Homo sapiens: one gene and its partners. The protein of the gene in region 2 interacts with the protein of the main gene of each other region in a pairwise test. Each region holds a gene or a part of one and is shown on either strand. Other genes may lie near its edges.

Region 1 (4,881 bases), on a different chromosome or scaffold from region 2:
ATAAAATGATTACTAAAAGATTAATGGGAAGTCATAAAATATTTGTTCAGCACCATTCTCATATATTGAGCACATTTTCCCTAAGAATACTATTAGTAACTTTAAAATTGCTCATAAAACAGTAAGTTTCCACTTAAAAGTCCGGCAGAATACCTAATGACTAATCCACCTCTCAAAGAAAATTTACCATATGCCATGATAAATGTTCTATTACTTGAATACAGGCGTTCTAGGGAAATCTGTGTAGACTCAGATAGTTGTATGGCACTGTCATCTTCAACCTCCAAAAACCCTTTCTTTCTTGTCAGTGCTAGCTACAATCTAAGGCAATGAAAGAGCCATTTGTTCCACTCAACTTAAAACCAGTATTGCTAAAGTCATTGGAGAAGCTGGTTCCTCTCATTAGAAAAGATTCTAGACTTGTCACAAATTATTCCCAGACCAGAGGCCATGGTAAGACATGTTCCCTTTATTCTCTCTCCACCTCTGTGCAGGAGTTTTATCCCAGTAAAATAAAAATACAGTTAGATCTGGGGTTATCTCATTATAATTATTTGAAGCCTTCTGTTCTACAACACTCCATGAAGGTGTGGGTTCTTTAAACTAAAGAGAATCTCGATCATTCAAAACCTCCAATTAATGTCCAAACAGACCTTAATCTGTTATCTGGGATCTCGGTCAGATGATACCTTGATTCTGACTTCCATTAAATAATGAGCAAAGATTCATTCCAGTTGCCATATTTGATGTCTGAATTATTTGAATTTTTTTTTTTTTTTTTTGAGACAGGGTCCCACTCTGTCACCTAGGCTGGAATGCAGTGGCATGATCATGGATCACTGCAGCTTCAACCTCCAAGGCTCCAGAAATCCTCCTACCCCAGCCTCCTGAATGGTTGGGACTACAGGCATGCACCACCACATCCCGTTAATTTTTGTATTTTTTGTAAAGATGGAGTTTCGCCCTGTTGGCCAGGCTGATCTTGAACTCCTGGGCTTAAGCAATCTGCCTGCATAGGCCTCCCAAAGTGCTGAGATTACAGGGGTGTGCCACCACACCTGGCCCAAATTATTTGGTTTTAAACACTTGTTAGATTCCTAAGTGAATGGTAGGTATGGTAGAGAACTCCTCTGCCATTCTCCTATTGCAATCCACACCCACACATATCTCCACCTCCCCTAATACACATAAAAGCACACTACATATACAAGTTTTGTTTTGAGTATAGTTTTTTTCTTGTGGCTAAGTAATAAACCACTTTAAACTGATGTGTCTAGGAGGACGGCCATGATCTATCCAAATTTTCTTCTCTCCTATCTGGCATTTCCTACCATTTCATTTGTCCTTCGACTTTATGAGATTTATTATTAGGCCATAAAGATGTCATAATCCTGGAATAGAAAGGGAAAAGTCATCAACTACAACAGTTCCCAGAACATTCTCACTCACGGCAATATTAAACATCATAAAACTTCCTTTCTCACAATAGACCTTGGAAGCTGGGTGCTATCCTCAAGCTTTAGGCCAACAAATTAAAATAGAAAGAGGAGTTGAATGAAAATTAGAAAAAGTATAGTTTTTACTCAAGAAGTACCTCATATTTTTCTACACAAACCCAAATCTTCCCCAAAATCCCACGATTCCCTTCAGATTATGCTAACGCTCAAGCTGTACAGGAGAAAGAACTGTGGTAGAAAAGAAAAATAAAGCAAAAGAGAAGCTGGGAGAGAAAAATTATAAAATTCAATCATAATCTATTGAGAATAAAATTTAAAATTAACTACGAAAAAATTAAAAATAAAAACACTGAAAAAGGTTAAACATCTTACTGGAAAATGGTGAATGCTACATCATAAATCTATAAGAAGGTATTATACATAGTTAAAGAAAGGAAAAATAGCCAAGAAATAAAATAAGAAAGTAACAAGTGAAGGAATGGCAAAATTTAGAAATATGAAAGTAGACAAGATGTCAAAAAATTTTTAAAAGTCTTGAGGTCAGAGGCAAAATTTTGGAAGGGGATTTGGAGAAAGTTTGAACAAATGTAATGTACTTGTAATGTCCTTCACCAATCTAACATACTTCATGATTTTAAGAACATAAAATTTAACCTATATAACTTTTTGGTCATTAAAGTCATCATGCTAGGCAAATTAAAAAGTATAGTTGTCTCAGATTACTGCAATTTAAAAAATTTTAATTAACTACCAATTGCAGAACTTACTGACAGTTTATGAGAAACAAAAGAAGCTATACATTTCATTATATAACAAATGATGTTTACGGGTTTTTATTTTTTCCTGTCTAGTGGATTAAAAAAAGAAAAAATTTTTCAGATGCCAAGGAGCGGAAAGGAAAAGAAAACACTCACTGGATAAAGCTTGTGCTTCATACAGGTTGGTCTAATCAGCAAATATAAACATGAAGCATTGAGACCAAGGGTCTGGTGGCTACTGACCAGGTATATATGTTTAGGATAGTCTCTGAGCTTCAAATTTCATCTTTAAAATGAGGGAGTTGGATTAGAACATTATCTATGTCTGATTTAACATGATTGTTCAAAAGCTACTGTAAGCTGGGCGTGGTGGCTCACGCCTGTAATCCCAGAACTTTGGGACGCAGAGGTGGGCAGATCACAAGGTCAGGAGATCAAGACCATCCTGGCCAACATGGTGAAAGCCCATCTCTACTAAAAATACAAAAAAAATTAGCCGGGTGTGGTGACACGCACCCGTAGTCCCAGTTACTTGGGAGGCTGAGGCAGAATAGCTTGAACCCCTGAAGCAGAGGTTGCAGTGAGCTGAGATCGTGCCACTGCACTCCAGCCTGGTGACAGAGCAAGACTCCGTCTCAAAAAAAAAAAAAAAAAAAAAGCTACTGTAGTGGATGCTGTGGTTTTCCACCCAGACAGCTCCCTCCAAAGTCCTTCAAGAATGAAGCACTGATTCCTCCAGCTGCTGGGGCTATTGGTTGACAGTGCTTAGCTGCATCCCTCTCTAGGAATTGCCCTTGACCAAAGAGATCCACCCAACTCAAGGTTATACCCCATCCTGGGAGCAGGCTTGCATCCAATGTCTTACATCTAATGACTGGTCCATAAAGAGATGTAAAGGCTGAGCCCTCTTGCCTCAATTTGGGATATGGCTGCATGGCCATCCCAGCCCTAAAGCTCCTAATGGTGTCAGCTGAGGTCTCTGTGGCAATTGCATCACAGTTCAACTTCTCCCTTTGCCCGCCCAATCCTGCTTTCTTCTTTCCTTAATAGGTTGAACCTGAGAGCACAACCCAATAAACTTGATGCCCCAATAAATCTACATCTCAGGGCCTGTTTTTGCAGGAACCCAACGTAGGAGAAACCCTAAATACCTCTTACTTTTGTGAAAACATCAGTGCCTCCTGGAGACACACTTTTATTTTGAGATTTGGACTGTAGTTCTTGTTCTCAGTAATCAGGAATTATGAAGCCAGCAATATTGTCCAATAATTATTTTTATAAACCATTCTAAAATTATTTCAGAGTAATAAGGATTAGGTAGAAATATAGAAATGCTACATATTAAGATGTTCATTCACTATTTTAACAGTAAAAATGTATATTATACTGTAATTTTAAAAAATAAATGAGTGAATTTTTTAAGCCTTTGATTCTCTAAGAAAAATAAATGCTAGCACTAATAACTGAAAAATAGAGAAAGCTACTAGGATGGGGAAAAGTTAAGCAAAAATACAGAAAGTAAAAGATTTTACTAATAATAAGAGGCAAAAAACAAAGCACTCTTAAGGAGGAGCTGATTAAATTAAAAAGTGAAATACAAATGAAAGAAAGTATTACATTTGTACAAACTCAGAATTACGGAAAAAGAAAATTAAAATAAGTACATAATAAATGCCATTGCTCAAAATGCTTATATCTCATTAAATTAACCAAAGTTTTTATAATCTTTCCTGAATTTGATATTCTTTTCTTTTAAGGTGTTCTTTCAAGAACTTTGGTGTTTTTATTTTTCTTTCCCCAATTTCCTTTTTCTGTCCTATTGTTTTTCCCTCTAGTGTATACAGATTTCTACATGTCCAGTACATTTCCAGTGAGATAAGCCAATACACTTCTCTGTCATTGAGGTACCTCTCTTGTCCGCTTTATACTTTTGTCTCTTTCTTGCATAAGTCAATTTCTTCTGATAAAAAAAAAAAAAGAAAAAAAGAAATTTGAAACTGACCTTGAAGAGGCAGTTTGGTAAATAGACACATATTCTCTAACATGAGTTCAACTGGCTCCTTCACAATTCAAAAATGAATTGTCTACCAAACAAAGTAGATGTTTCAGAGATACGCCAAGCTTGGCAACAGGAGAAATCATGGACGCTGCTAAAGCAGCAACAGCTGATTTCATAGTCATGGAATGATCCTGCACCTGATCCCTGTCAAGATAACAGAGGGTCTTATTTACTGTCTCCAGCTTTGGTCCGTCTAAGTAGGTACTGTTTTCTGTTTACTTATCCCCCAGCTTTAGGCCTGGAACAATGTTGAACATAGTGTCACAGGCCCTGGTGCCAGACAGGATCAGGGGCTGCGGAATATTTACAGTTTCCCTTCTTCTGCTTCCATAAATGAAATGGACAGTCTGAATGGAGAAAATCAAGGGCCAGCTGGCTAAAAACACAACTGGCAGCAAAACAGTTGGGCCCCTTCCAAGAGCTGGTGTTTAAAGAGAGGCCATTTAAAGAGCAAAGTCCACCTACCACAATAGTGGGCCAGGACACTAGCTGTAGGATGAAACAATGCAATTTCACTCAAAATGATTTTTGTTTCCAAAGTTTGGAAACTAGATGTGCCCCCTTCTTCCCAAGAAATTTTCTAGTCTTAGGGTCAATCCCTTAAAAT
Region 2 (4,881 bases):
TTCTGCATTGTGGTCAGGCCCAGGGGCTGCACAAGCCGGGCCTCAGCTCCTTCTCCTGGGCGAGGGCAGGGAAGTGGTGGGAGCCATAAGGGTGATGCCAGGGTGAGGCAGACCCACCATCACTAGAAAATATCTTCCGGGTGCACCACTGCGAAAGCACCCCACACTTGGGAGTCCCTCGACAGACAAATCAGGGGCCTCCAAGGGAGTCTTGCTGGAGGGGAGCACTTGCGAGGCTGGGCGGAAGCAGCCAGAGACCAGGGTAAGGAGTGAAGCCCAAGCTTGTGGGGCCTGCAGAGAATGGCAGGAGGATTAACTGAGCACTTACTACGTGCCGGGCACTGTGCTGTTGTTACGGCGGGTCCTTGCTCCCGGAGCTCCCAAGATCGTGGTGGCCACTTCCAAGAGGGCAGCAAGCCTCGTGTTCTCTGACCTGGGGTTCTTGGCCTCACGGATTCCAAGGAATGGAATCCTGGGCCCTGCGGTGAGTGTTTTAGCTCTATTAGAAGCCGTGGGTCACGGAAGAGAACCGTGGAACCCAGCGACCAGTGTTCAGCTCGATCAGGATGAACCCAGGCAGTTAGCTGTGCAGGAACAATGGCGAGCCTCTAGCCCGATTGGGAGCGGCAATGGGTGTCTCCCTGGATCACGAGCACAGTGGACACCCTGCCGGATCCGGAGGGTGGAAGTCAGCGGCGGGTCTGCGACGGCGGCAAACAGCAGTGGTGGACGGCGAGCGAAAGCTCAGCTCAAGCCGTAACAGACACGGACCAGAAGAGTGTGCAGTTTCAAGTTTTAATAGAGTGAAAACAGAGTTCCCATACAACGGGAGGGGACCCAAAGTGGGTAGCCGTTGCTGGCTGGAATGCCTGGGTTTCTATCCAGATCATTGTCCCTTCCCCTGTGCTCTCAGGTGATAGATGATTGGCTATTTCTTTACTTCCTATTTTTGCCTAACTAGCACTTTAGTGAGCTCTCTTTACTACCTGATTGGTTGGGTGTGAGCTAAATTGCATGCCCCGTGTTTAAAGGTGGATGCGGTCACCTTCCCAGCTAGGCTTAGGGATTATTAGTCGGCCTCGGACATCCAGCTAGTCCTGTCTCTCACTGTGGCTTGCATGCTTGCACCTCCTGAATCATGGTGGTGGGCCCTTCACTGATATTTAAGGATTAACTTTTTTTTTTTTTCATTTTTGAGACTAAGTCTCACTCTTGTCGCCCAGGCTGGAGTGCAGTGGTGCAATCTTGGCTCACTGCAACCTCCACCTCATGGGTTCAAATGATTCTCCTGCCTCAGCCTCCCAAGTAGCTGGGATTACAGGCGTGCACCACCACGCCCGGCTAATTGTTGTATTTTTAGTAAAGACGGGGTTTCACCATGTTGGCCAGGCTGGTCTCAAACTCCTGACCTCAAGTGATCCGCCTGCCTCAGCCTCCCAAAATGCGCGGATTACAGGCGTGAGCCACCTCGCCCGGCCAAGTATTAACTATTAACTAACATCTCAGTTCCCTCGTTCACGCTCAGGCTAACCTCTAAGTGTGTCCACGTGCTTGGCACTCTCCTAAGCACTTCTAGTCATGCAGCCCACTCGAGGCAATATTCTCAAGCCAGTGTTGTTGTGCTCCCCACGTTACATGTAGGGAAACTGAGGAACGAGAGGCTAAGGTTACCGAGACAAGAGTTACCCGGCCAGTTAAGCGGAGGGGCTGGGGTTGAGACCAGGCAGCCTCTGCCTCCAGACGTCATGCCCTCCAGGGATGCGATGGGATCTTTGGTGCAGTCTTGAGAACGAGTATCTCCACTCTGCAGGGTGGGGTTGGGGATGGGGAGCTCGGAGAGAACACATCACGTGTCCCTGGTCACAGGGCACATGTGTGTGGCCCGGCCAGGGGATAGTCCCAGGTGCTCAGGACCTGTATTCTAAACCGCTCCAGTGTCCTGTCTCATGATAACACTATTTCACAGAGGACCTGGGCTGTGGCCCAGACACAGTAAACAGCAGGAGGCTGAGCTTGGAGGGTGGTGAATGTGAGGCTGAGCTGGGGGGCAGGGTGAATGCTGGTGGAGGGTTGCTGTTCCGCCGGGGTGCCTGGAGGCAGGTTTGTGGTTTCAGCCCTACCCTCTCCCCTCCCAGGTGGCTGGCCTACGTCCTCCTGCTGCTCCTGGAGCTGCTGGTCTGCCTCTTCACCCTCCTGGGCCTGGCGAAGCAGAGCAAGTGGCTGGTGATCGTGTAAGTGCAGGCAGTAGGGGGACCCAGTGCTTGCCTGGCACTCTCCTGGCAGGCAGGACCTCAGTCTTACAACTCTCCTACACGGAGGACCGTGGTCCTTCACGGCCGGGTACACACGAAGAAAAGAGAGTCAGAGCAGCCCAGGAGGGAGGCGGGGACAGACCTGAAAACAGGCAGCCCTAACAGTATGAAGTATGCTGGAATCATGGCAGAAATAATCATTGTGTTGGCAATAAAGATGAGGATGAGGCCAGGCGCGGTGGCTCACACCTGTAATCCCAGCACTTTAGGAGGCCGAGGTGGGTGGATCATGAGGTCAGGAGTTTGAGACCAGCCTGACCAACATGGAGAAACCCTGTCTCTATTAAAAATACAAAAATTAGCTGGGTGTGGTGGCATGCGCCTGTAGTCCCAGCTACTCAGGAGGCTGAGGCAGGAGAATCGCTTGAACTCAGGAGGTGGAGGTTGTGGTGAGCCAAGATCACACACCATTGCACTCCAGCCTGGGCGACAGAGTGACACTCCATCTCAAAAAAAAAAAAAAAAAAAAAAAAAGGCTGGGCGTGGTGGCTCACGCCTGTAATTCCAGCACTTTGGGAGGCCGAGGAGGGCGGATCACGAGGTCAGGAGTTCGAGACCATCCTGGCTAACACGGTGAAACCCCATCTCTACTAAAAATACAAAAATTAGCCGGGCGTGGTGGCGGGCGCCTATAGTCCCAGCTACTCGGGAGGCTGAGGCAGGAGAATCGCTTGAACCCGGGAGGCGGAGCTTGCAGTGAGCTGAGATTGCACCACTGCACTCCAGCCTGGGCGACACAGTGAGACTCCATTTCAAAAACAACAACAACAAAAAAAAAAAACAGATGAGGATGATGATCTATTGAGGGTCATGCACGCTGAGTCCTTCAGTTGCCTCCACCCCATGAAGGAGCTACCATAAGGCTCCATGTGGCCGGTCAGGGACCTGACTAAGAGCGCAGAGGGTGGCCAAGTCCAAGACTGAGCCGTCCTTAAGTGTCGTGGCAAAGCCGCAGGACCACACTGATTTCACAGCTCGCTCTACGCGCCCGACACTCTTCTCTGCACTCCCTGGAGCACCTCATGCCCCCTGTGAGGAAGGTGCTTCCTTCTGCCTGTTTTTTATTTCTGTTTTTTATTTTGAGAAGGTCTTGCTTTGTTGCCCAGACTGGAGTGCAGTGGCATGATCACGGCTCACTACAGCCTCTGTCCCCTGAGGCTCAAGTGATCCCCCCACCTCAGCCTCCAGAGTAGCTGGGACCATGGGCTTATGCCACCACTCCCGGCTAAGTTTTTTTTTTTTTTTTTTTTTTTTTTTGAGCTGCAATTTGGCTCTTGTTGTCCAGGCTGGAGTTCAGCGGCGCGATCTTGGCTCACTGCAACCTCTGCCTCCTGGGTTCAGGCAATTCTCCTGCTTCAGCCTCCCAAGTAGCTGGGATTACAGGCGTATGCCACCAAACCTGTCTAATTTTGTATTTTTAGTAGAGATGGGGTTTCTCCATGTTGGTCAGGATGGTCTCAAACTCCTGACCTAAGGTGATCCGCCCGCCTCAGCCTCCCAAAGTGCCTGGATTACAGGCATGAGCCACCGTGCCTGGCCTAAGTTTTGTATATTTTTGTAGAGATGGAGTCTTGCTATGTTGCCCAGGCTGGTCTCGAACTCCTGGCCTCAAGTGATCAGCCTGCCTCAGCCTTCCAAAGTACTGGGTTTACAGGCATGAGCTACCATGCCTGGCCCTTCTCCCTGTTTAACAGAGGGAGAGACTGAAGATCAGAGAGGTTGGACCACTTGCTCAGGGCCACACAGCTAGAAGTGCTAGAGCTGGGATTTGAACCAGACAGGCCATTCTCATTGGAGGAGTCCCTGCATTCTCTCTGGCCCTGGTGGGGTGAGGCAGAGTTGAACCTGTACCTCCATTGCCCCTGAGAGAGTGGGAGAGACCCCGCGTAAGGCTTGCAGACCCATAAACCTAGCCAACACAGGGCAGGTCTGGGACTGGAAGCCAGGCCTTCAGTTTGGGGACCCCTGGGTGCCCTTCTTGCTTACTGGTCACCCTACCAATGCTGACACGCCCCCTGCACCCCTCCCCACCCGGAAAGTCCAGAGACTTTCAGATTTCAGCCCTGGCACTGTCTCCCATTCTCAGAGGAGACAGGGCAGAGCCAGAGGCTGATCAGGCTGTGGGTGGACTTGGGGGAGCCTTCGGGGGAAGTGAGCCCAGAGGTGAGCAGTCACCGTCCCAGGGTCCTGGAGCTGGGATCCAAGCTGCGACCACCCAGCCCAGGGCCCTGCTCATACCCCACACCCTGCTCATCTGGGCAGGAGCCAGATGTCCAGCTGGACATCAGCAGCCACTGGCCTACCCCCAACCACTGAACTTGTGTTTCCCTAATTCTGATCCTCCAGGCTCCAGAGGTGGGTGGAGGTGGGGGGCGGCTGTGATGGGATTTGGGGTGTGGAAAGAGGCTAGGCTAGGAGATTAAGAACCCCGGGCTGATCCTCCCTCCCCCACTCTAGGATGACAGTCATGAGTCTCCTGGTTCTCGTCCTGAGCTGGGGCTCCATGGGCCTGGAGGCAGCCACGGCCGTGGTGAGTGCCAGGGCCGGGCCATTGGGCTCTGGGACTCAG
Region 3 (4,881 bases), on a different chromosome or scaffold from region 2:
TCCATTACTATTCCCTCATTACTTGGTCATTAGTTTTGCCATGTCTGGGCATAACAAGTGAAGCCGATGTATCCAGAAAGAATGACACAAGAAAACTTTTAAAAGAGTAAACCATCTTTTTAGTCTGACCTGTGTATTGGGAGAGGTTGGCCACCTTTTAATGTTTGCAGCAAGATAACTTGGCTCTGTCTGTTGAACTCACTTGTGTTCCTATGTGTTTCATATGTTTGCGTGCCCTTCTAGGTCTACCAGACGCCTGTCCTCTATCTCAGGGCCTTGTGCATTAATCCAAGTATGTTTAGTGTTATTCCCACTTAGAATTCCTGTGATGCTTATAATAGATACCGAACCACACATTTTCAAGGCTTCACTGTATCTTTTGTTGTTACGATCTCCAGAGGTGCACACCTGCCATCGCTCTTGCCTCCCTGATGAGAGGAAGTTCCACGCTGGCGGGGGCTTTGTGTTGCCTCTGTCTGAGACACTCCTGACTCTGCCTCCCACAGAAATGGGCATGTGGTCAGCTTACCTCCTATTCACTTCTAGCTTTCCTGCTCCAGGTGGCTAAGGCCTGACCTGGGTTTAGCAGGCCCTGAGGGCTGCAGCTTCATTACAAAAATACTATTGTCAGGAGTGGATGGAAGCCCAGTAGCCTCCGCCATCCCATGTTCATGTGCACATATACACACATGCAGTTTGTGAAGCACGTCTTGCCTCTTCAACTTAATAACCAAAGTTGAAAATTCCCAGACATACCCCTGAACCATTATCCCCACTCCTCATCCAACTCCGTTGTGTCCTGGGCCACTGTTTCCTCTCTGCCAACCTAGAACAACTCTTGAGTGGGGCTTGGCCCAGGACACGTAGCCTGGACTCAGTCCAGGGTAGTGATAGGCCTCCATTGGGCCTCCACCCATATCTGTGCCAGGGACTCTGCTCCCTCAGGGCCCTTCGAGGGAGCAGGGGCCCAGGGCCAGCTGAGCCTCAGGCAAACAAAAGCAGAATGTACCTGCGTTATTGAGTCCGAAGAGGAGTGGGCAGGAGATGGTGAAGGACAGGACCCAGACGATGGAGATCATGACGGTGACCCGGCGCTTGGAGCTGTAGCGCGTATTGTACAGCATGGGCATGGCCACAGCTGTGTACCTGCAAGGGCGGGGGACCCTGAATCTGGGGTGCAGGCCCAGGGACCCCTCACTCCACAATATGCACACACCAGAGACACCCTCACTCCTTGGGGCTAAACAGTTGACACACCTCTATGAAGCTTGCCTGAGATGCTAACTCAACCCTCCCTCCTGTCCCCAAACTCAGATGGCGAGGACAGTTGGCAAAGCCCAAACACTTAATCACTGGTGAGCTATTGTTTACTCTTAGCTCATATCTATTATTCTAACCGGCCCCACCTGGATTTCAGGCTTTTCGAAGAACCATGGCCTGCATCTTTGCACTTTTGAAACTGTACCCACTGCACTTGTGTTGAGCCCATAAGGTGGAAATGTTTGTTGATAAATTGTTAGCCAGGCCCCTCAGAGCAAGATTTAAGCCTTAGTTAGCAGGAAATAACAATGGCAATTGTCTACAATCCTTCATCACATTTTTTTTTTTACCCAGCCCTTCTCATTCATTAACTTATTTCATCTTCCAAGAATGGTGTGAGGGAGGTAGGGTCATATCTGTGCAAATTAGTGGAAGGCTCCAAGGATGCAGCTTAGCAAGGTGTGCATGGCCTGGGACCCTTGGCCATGTGCCAAGGACATAAAATGCATAACCAGATACTGCAGCTCCAGGCCACAGGTGTCATCAATGTAGGTTTCTAGAAAATGAAACTGAGAGCTCTGAAAACGTCCATCATCTGCCCAAGGTCACATGAGTAAGATGTGCTAGAGCTAGGGCTTCCGTCAGAATCACAATCTTTCCCCTTTTGTACCAGTCACTGTCTGAGTATGCTTGGCAGCATCACTGTCCATAGATGGCTTCTCTTTAGGGAGTGTGTGCTCTCCTAGCCAAACATACACACATGCACACCCATACACACAAACACATGGACCCCCATGCACACAGCCAGCTGCACAGCATCACAGACACGAGACACAGCCTGGCTTTGAGAAAAGCTGGGGCAGCCAGAATGGTGAGTGGCCAGAGCAACCTCTTCCACCCTGGCTGGGCTCACCTGTCGATGCTGATGGCACACAAGTTCAGGATGCTCGCCGTGCACATCATGACGTCCAGAGTGACGAAGATGTCACAGTGAATCCTGCTGAATTTCCACTCACCTACCACCTGGGGACAAAGCAACATAATGGATGGACAGCAGGAGTGGGAGATTAGCTTAGGTCCTGTAGCCTGGTACTCCTGGAGCCGATGAGGCCACAGACTCAGGAGGCAGCTGCAAGTCTTGTGGGCATCCAGCTGGGGTGTGGGGAGTGATGCCCATGGGTGTCTGAGGCCCTTGCCCCTCGCTTATCTTCTCCCAGATACATAAGACCACTTATTGCCAATTACTGTGCTAGAAGAAAGACAGCCAACTTATACGGAGGGCCTCAACTTTAAACCTTAATCTCTGCAACCTTTGTTAACCCCATGTGTTTTCTTAGATTCTGTATTTGTGTATTTGGCACCCATTCATCACAGAGACACCTATATTGACTATATTTTTCTATCTTCTCTGATCCTGATATTCTGGCACTTGGGAGCCTCACAGACCCAGAGAGAGACTTACTGTCCCAGAGCTAGTTAATTCCTGAAGACAGAAAATGACTGACTTGGAAGGATGCCTCTCAAATGCAAGCCAGCCACCCCGTTTCTCTAATTCACACACACACCAAGACAATATTTCCCCTGTCCCAAATTATCTCAGGTACCAGAGAGACAACTAGAGATCACCCCTGTAGCCCAAAGCCTGCCAGGATGTTGAGACTAGCCAACCCTAGGTTGCTTAATCTGCCCTGCCTTGCACTTCCTGTGGGAGCCCCAACAGGGCTGTAGCCTGGGCTTTCCCTCACCCCTGATTCTGACTCTTGACCCAAGCCTGCTGCTTCCCCCTGCACCCCACATGGCGGGCTGAGCATCTGGTTTCTAGGGACATTGTGTATCACGTTAAACTCTTCCCAATGGCACTGGCTTCCCTGTGTTATCACTCAGCCATACCTCTGTAAATTAGATTCCAGGTAAAATTTTAGAATGCCCGTGAGGAAACTGAGAACCAATGAGGAAACCAAGCCTCCAAAAAGTGCAGTGATTTCCCCAAGGCCTGTGGGCTCAGTTCCTAGTCCTGCTCTGGCCCAGGCTCTGGCTGAGCCAGGCAAGCCCTTCAGTGGTTGGCCCAGTACATGGCAGAGTCGGGGCCCCAAAATGATCTGTTAAGAATAATGGTGAAGATGAAGACTCGCCATGAAACAGAGAAGAAATTTCTGCTCCTTCTTATACCCAGAGAACGAAAGAAGGCAGATCTGGGCTAGTGCTCGAGGAACACCCGAGTGGGCTGGGGTAGGCGGAGGGGTTGCTGTGATGAGCTGTGTCCTTGGTAGGATGGGAAATGAAGAGTCTAGCTCCTGGCAGGAGCACGTTTCTCATACACACATGCACACAGGCACACACACACACACACACACACACATGAACGCACCGCCCTCCCCCCTCCCCACGTAACACCCATTCACACACAGGCACACACTCATGGCAGATTACGCAGGCACACACTCACGGCAGCTGTCCCTAGCGCTCTGGAAGCTTGGAGCAGCCCCAGTTCCCTGAGGATGGAGTCAGGACAGGGAGATGCACCTTTGGCTTCTACCAATAGGAGCAGAGAGGAGCGTGAAAGCCCCCTCCCGCAACCCGGAGTAGGGCAGACTTCGTGTCACCGTGTAGCTTGGCAGCAGGGCTAATTATAACCTTGCTCATTCTGATCACTGCCCTCTCTTCTGCTCCTAGGCATCCAACCAAATGCTGGCATTTAAGCTCAATGATGGGCAATGCAGCTGCTGTCATCCTGTGTGGCAGAAACAGCAGCTTGCCCCAGAACACAGCAAGCCTCTCATGCGGCACTGTCTTCCTGGGAGCTCACATGGGGGCCCCGTACCAGGGCCTCTCTCCCAGCTCCCTGTGCTGCTGCGCTGACCAGTTTGGCAGGAGCTAACAGCTGGATGCCCATTTTGCGGGTGGAGGCAGGAGGGTACGTAAAGGGCTTTCCTGGCATAAACAGAGTGTGCCTTTAGGGTACCACTGGGCAGAAAACCAGCACTACCTGATTTACATCCCACTTTGAAGCCCCTCCTGGGACCAGTACTTGGGAGCCACTGGGGATCTAGGTTGAGATATCAGGGCCTTCCTCCCTGTCTTCCTCCTCTCCTTCCCTCCTTTCTGCCATCCCTTCTTTCCTACAAACACTTATTGAGCAAATTACTGTGTTCCAGCCTCTATCCTAGGCTCCTGGACACAGTTGTGAGCAATTCAGACACAGTCCTGCCTTCATGGACATCTTAAATCTCTCCTTGCACTGGCCTATCTGGAGCCCAGAATAACAAAGAGATTTCCTCTGTGGTCCCAGGGGAAGCTGCCTTGGAGAGTAGTTAGGGCTGCTAACTTAAAGACTCAAGAAAATGCATTGGTGGCCACTGTCCATAAGACATCTACTGTGGGCATTGCACTTTATCTCATGTATCGTTCTTAAAACTTTTACAAGAAGGGCTTGCTTATCCCACTCATAGGTGAGGGAACTGAAGCCCAGAGAGGCCATGTAACGTGGCCAAGTTCACCTGGCAGGTGTGCAGCAGAGCTGGAATCTGAAACATCACATCCCATGCTCTCTACTAAGCTGCCCTGGAAGGGACCATCTAGCTTATCAAGAGAGGAGATAATTAGGTGACAAGTACTTGGTAA
Region 4 (4,881 bases), on a different chromosome or scaffold from region 2:
TTCTATACCTACCCATTTTTATTTATTTACTGTTTATTTCCTTCTTCTAGAATTTAGGCCTATGAGGGTGGGGAACTTGTTTTTCTGCCTTTTTTTTTTTTTTTGAGACAGAGTCTCACTTTCTCGCCCAGGCTGGAGTGCAGTGGCGTGATCTTGGCCCACTGCAACCTCCGCTTCCCAGGTTCAAGCAATTCTCCTGCCTCAGCCTCCGGAGTAGCTGGGCTATAGGTGCACATCGCCACACCGGGCTAATTTTTTGTATTTTAGTAGAGATGGGGTTTCACTGTGTTGCCCAGGCTGGTCTTGAAACCCTGAGCTCAGGCAATCCACCCGCCTTGGCTTTCCAAAGTGCTAGGATTACAGGCGTGAGCTACCATGCCTGGCCTGTCTTTCTGTTTTCCCCCATGGTCCCAGGAATTAGGGGCACCTGGCACATCATGGGTGCTCAGTATGTATTGATGGAAGGAATGCAGTGTACACAGTGCTTCAGGGAGCCTGGTATTCCAGCCCTGTTTGTGCGGTTGCCTGTTTTCTCATGCCTTTCAGAGTCACTTCTTGAGTGTCATGATCCTGAACTTTTTATCGTGTGAATTCATTTGCTTGGTGACATGTATTGACACCTGCTTTGCACAGCAGCTGTTCTAGGCTGTGTATGTAGTGGTGAACGAGACCAACAGTGCCTGCCCTCTTGAAATCTGTTCTAGTTAGGAGTACAGACATTAATCATCAAACTGTACCACGATGAGGATTATGGAGCTTATAGGAGGGATGCTTCACCCAGCAAACATTCAAAATCTATTATTCACTGTGTATGTTTGAAGATGAAAGCAAAGCACTCACACCAAGCCCTAAAGTGAAAGGCTGGAGGGGTCTTCATGGGTTGGTTAGGCCAGCGCCTTACTTCTAAGGCAGAGTGACTCAGGGGCCTCTCAAGCCAGAAATGTGTCTGTTCTAATCCCCCCGCTTTCTGGAAAGCCCATTCTCTTGGTTTGAACGTGACGTGTGCAAATTCTGCCTCTGTTCCTGCTTTCAAATCCACTCGGCTCCTTAAGTAAGCCTCCTGCAGGCCGTTTTCCTGATTGCCTGGTGAACGGCCTGCACTTTGGGAAAATGCATCTGAGAAATTGCATTGGCCCTCCTGGGTCACCGCCTCTTTCTTCCCACCAGAGCTGGCCTGGAGGTGGAGGCCCCCTCAATGTTTGGACCTAAAGGAAGTGATGAGAATGAATCAGATGTGGGTGTCTTGGACCCCTTCCCTTTTCCTGTGCCCAGCCCCACTTAGCCTTGGCTTCCTGCCCCATTCCACTCTCTAGCTTCCCTGCAGAGGGAAAGGAGCTGGGCATAGGTCTCGAGGCCCCAGTTCCTCTGGGGTCAGAACATGGGAGCTGGTCAGCCTTGAGCATTTCATCCCCTCTCCATATGTCTATTTATGGAAATGGGCTTTTAAAAGGCCACTGGTTGGCTTAGTGATTTCCACTAGGTCTTCCCACCACCTCAGGGCTGGGAGGAAGGGGTCCTGCTTAGCACTGTGGCTGGGAGTGTGGGCTGGGGATGGAGGAAGAGCCGTGGGGCAGAGTGAGGAGCTACCAGGGCAGGGGAGTGTGTGTGTTGGGAGCAGGGTGGAAGGTGGGGGCCTGGATGTGGGTGGCACTGAGCCATCCTTGGGAGATTGTGGAGGGTCCAGGGTGTTAGGGGCAGTTTCAGAGATGCAGCATGGGCCACTGGCTTGAGGGAGAGCCCAGCAGGAGAGGCCCAGCCTCCTCCTCTTCCTGGCAGGATTTCTGGGTCTCTGTGGTCCATAACCTCATCCCATCTCTACACCTCACCTTCCTCCCCACTCCCATCCATCCTTCTCTCCTTCAGTTCCCATGTCTTCCTTCTGTGTGCCCCGTCTTCCCCTCCCCCTTCTCCTGTCCCATCAATTTCTCCCGCTTTTCCTCCTCCCCCTCCTTTTTTCACCCTCTCTCACCCAACTAAGCGTCATTCTGTCTTAGTGATCCATCTTCCCTTCCATCTCTGTCTTTCCTCCTCCTCAGAGGAGGAGGCTGTGATCACAGAAATATCTGTGAGGGGGAGGAGGGGGCCGAGCCAGGGAGAGGCTGGCAGAGTGACACTGCCGAGCATGGCAGGCTTGGCTGCTGCTCAGAGCCAGGCAGCCTGGTGCAGCCAGGGCTGGAGCAGGAGCTTGGGGGTCTGGCTGGTTAGGGTTCAAGCCCTGCCTCTTTTGCCTCATAGCTGGACGATCTTGGGCAAGGCATTTTACCTCCTTATGCTCCAGGGGTCATGACATCTATCACACAAGTCTGTTTGAAGAGTCAATTAGATAATATACATAAAATACCAGGCACATAGTAAGTGCTCAACAAATTTCAGCTAGGCAGTGACTCACAACTGTAATCCCAACACTTTGGGAGGCCAAGGCAGGAGGATTCTTTGAAGCTAGGAGTTCGAGACCAGCCTGGGCAACATAGCGAGCTCCTGTCTCTAAAAATATATATAAAAAATTAGCCAGGCCTGGTGGCACATACCTTTAGTTACAGCTATTCGAAGAGGCTGAGGTGAGAGGATTGCTTGAGCCCAGGCAACAGAGCAAGACCCCATCTTTAAAACAACAACAATAGTTGTTCGTGCCTCTCTTTTCCTGTTGTTGGTAAAATATGTTTCTGGGGAGCTCACCACCTTGACCCTTTCTAGGGAAAAACATCACTGCTGTCACCAGCACCATCACCATCATTATCAAACAGCTGAGCCAGAGACTAATAATAATGACAACAATAGCTAACACTTCTATGGGACTTCCTATGTGCTGGCACTGTTCTAACTTTCAGTGTATTATTTTATTTTATCCTTATTATAATCCTATGAGGTAGATGCTATTTTAGTGCCATTTTACAGAACAGAAAGTGGAAGCATAGATGAAGTAACTTGCTTAAGGTCACTCCACTAGTTTGTAACAGAGCCAGGATTTGAAACCAGGCAGTCTGGCTCCAGAGTCTGTCTTGTAACTCTCACACTATGATCAGATGATGGTAACAAAATTTAATTGTGGGCTGGGCGTGGTGGCTCACGCCTGTAATCCCAGCACTTTGGGAGGCCGAGGTGGGTGGATCACCTGAGATCGGGAGTTTGAGACTAACATGGAGAAACCCCATCTCTACTAAGGTACAAAATTAGATGGGCATGGTGGTGCACACCTGTAGTCCCAGCTACTTGGGAGGCTGAGGCAGGAGAATCGCTTGAACCCGGGAGGCAGAGGTTGTGGTGAGCCGAGATCGCGCCATTGCACTCCAGCCTGGGCAACAAGAGCGAGACTTCGTCTCAAAAAATAAATAAATAAATAAATAAAATTAATTGCACAAAGGAATACATAAATACACTTTAAAAATTCAACAATAGGGATGAAGGAAAAGACCTCCAAATTCCAGCTAATCACCTTTCACTCCCAGGGACATGCATCAATTTAGGATATGTCCTTCTAGGTCTTTTTTTTTTTTTTTTTTTCTGTTAGGACAGAGTGTCACTCTGTCACCCAGGCTGGAGTGCAGTGGTACAACCACGGCTCACTGCAGCCTTGACCTCTTCTGACTCAGGTGATCCTCCCACGTCAACCTCCGGAGTAGCTGGGGCTACAGACGCACATCACCATGCCTGGCTAATTTTTGTATTTTTTGTAGAGATGGGGTTTCACCATGCTGCCCAGGCTGGTCTTGAACTCCTGGACTCAAGCAATCCACCTGCCTCGGCCTCCCAAAGTGCTGGGATTACAGGTGTGAGCCACTGCACCTAGCCCTTCCGGGTCATTTTCTATGTGCTTATGTATTTATACAGGTACTTAAAGAAACTTGGTGCTTTGTGTTGGATATTGTTTTTTAAACAAATAGGATCATGCTGTATCTATTACTTTGCAACCTGCTATTATAATTTAATAATCATGGAGATCTTTTCATTTGATTGATTCATTCTTTTAAAACATCTGTGTAGTATTCTGTAGTGGGAATTCACCGTGGTTTATTTAAGCCACTCTTCTCTTTTTTTTTTTTTTTTTTGAGACAAACTCTCACTCTGTCACCCAGGCTGGAGTGTGGTGGTGTGATCTCGGCTCACTGCAGCCTCCACCTCCTGGGTTCAAGTGATTCTCCTGCCTCAGCCTCCTGAGTAGTGGGACTACAGGCATGCACCACCACACCTGGCTAATTTTTTTATTTTTAGCAGAGACAGGGTTTTGCCATGTTGGCCAGGCTGGTCTCGAACTACTGACCTCAAGTGATCTGCCCACCTTGGCCTCCCAAAGGGCTGAGATTATAGGCGTGAGCCACTGTGCCCAGCCTAAACCACTCTTCTTTTGATGGACATTAAGGCTGTTTCCAATTTTTTCCTATCACAAGTAGTGCTGTGGGACACATTCTTGGATATGTGAAGCGTGCAGACATGAATGTAGGTGTTGGCTGGAAGCTGTATGTGTGATTGTTGGCTGGAAGGGCCCTGGATTGTCCTTCAGGAAGCTGCCCTCTGACACTGATACAGAAGGGAGATGCAAACGACAGGACATGGCCCCAAGGGGCTGCGAGGTGCTTATGGGGGAGAGAGAATCCAGAAGGGTGATGCCAGCATCAGCCAGATGCCGGGGTGTGGACTAGTGACAGCCATTGGCTTCTGCTCCATGAGGGCCTCTTGCTGACAGTGGTGGGGTTTCTGTAACCCCACCTGACTGGGCCCATGGATGCCGTCTCCAAAGGTGGAAGCAGCTTGGTGAAGTGGGCAGAGTGGTGTTCCTGAGGCCAGAAATGATGGAATCCCTAACTCAACTCTTAACTGCTGTGTGACTTCTGGCAAGTCATTTTGCCTCTCCGAGCCTCAGTTGTCTCATCTGCAAAATGGGGA

Evidence for each region.
Region 1: the proteins of TTYH1 (region 2) and GPR37 interact in a two-hybrid assay, tested with the Homo sapiens proteins (one large-scale study listed by BioGRID and IntAct).
Region 3: the proteins of TTYH1 (region 2) and DRD2 interact in a two-hybrid assay, tested with the Homo sapiens proteins (one large-scale study listed by BioGRID and IntAct).
Region 4: the proteins of TTYH1 (region 2) and HTR6 interact in a two-hybrid assay, tested with the Homo sapiens proteins (one large-scale study listed by BioGRID and IntAct).

Annotation. Positions count from the first base shown.
Region 1 is NC_000007.14:124,758,303-124,763,183, forward strand, and holds part of GPR37 (prosaposin receptor GPR37 precursor), read right to left. Parts: intron 1-4,881.
Region 2 is NC_000019.10:54,424,538-54,429,418, forward strand, and holds part of TTYH1 (protein tweety homolog 1), read left to right. Parts: intron 1-2,135; coding exon 2,136-2,231; intron 2,232-4,769; coding exon 4,770-4,842; intron 4,843-4,881. UniProt on the Homo sapiens protein: Calcium-independent, swelling-dependent volume-regulated anion channel (VRAC-swell) which plays a pivotal role in the process of regulatory volume decrease (RVD) in the brain through the efflux of anions like chloride and organic osmolytes like glutamate.
Region 3 is NC_000011.10:113,415,854-113,420,734, forward strand, and holds part of DRD2 (D(2) dopamine receptor), read right to left. Parts: intron 2,284-4,881; coding exon 2,174-2,283; intron 1,147-2,173; coding exon 1,010-1,146; intron 1-1,009. UniProt on the Homo sapiens protein: Dopamine receptor whose activity is mediated by G proteins which inhibit adenylyl cyclase. Positively regulates postnatal regression of retinal hyaloid vessels via suppression of VEGFR2/KDR activity, downstream of OPN5.
Region 4 is NC_000001.11:19,670,379-19,675,259, forward strand, and holds part of HTR6 (5-hydroxytryptamine receptor 6), read left to right. Parts: intron 1-4,881. UniProt on the Homo sapiens protein: G-protein coupled receptor for 5-hydroxytryptamine (serotonin), a biogenic hormone that functions as a neurotransmitter, a hormone and a mitogen. Also has a high affinity for tricyclic psychotropic drugs.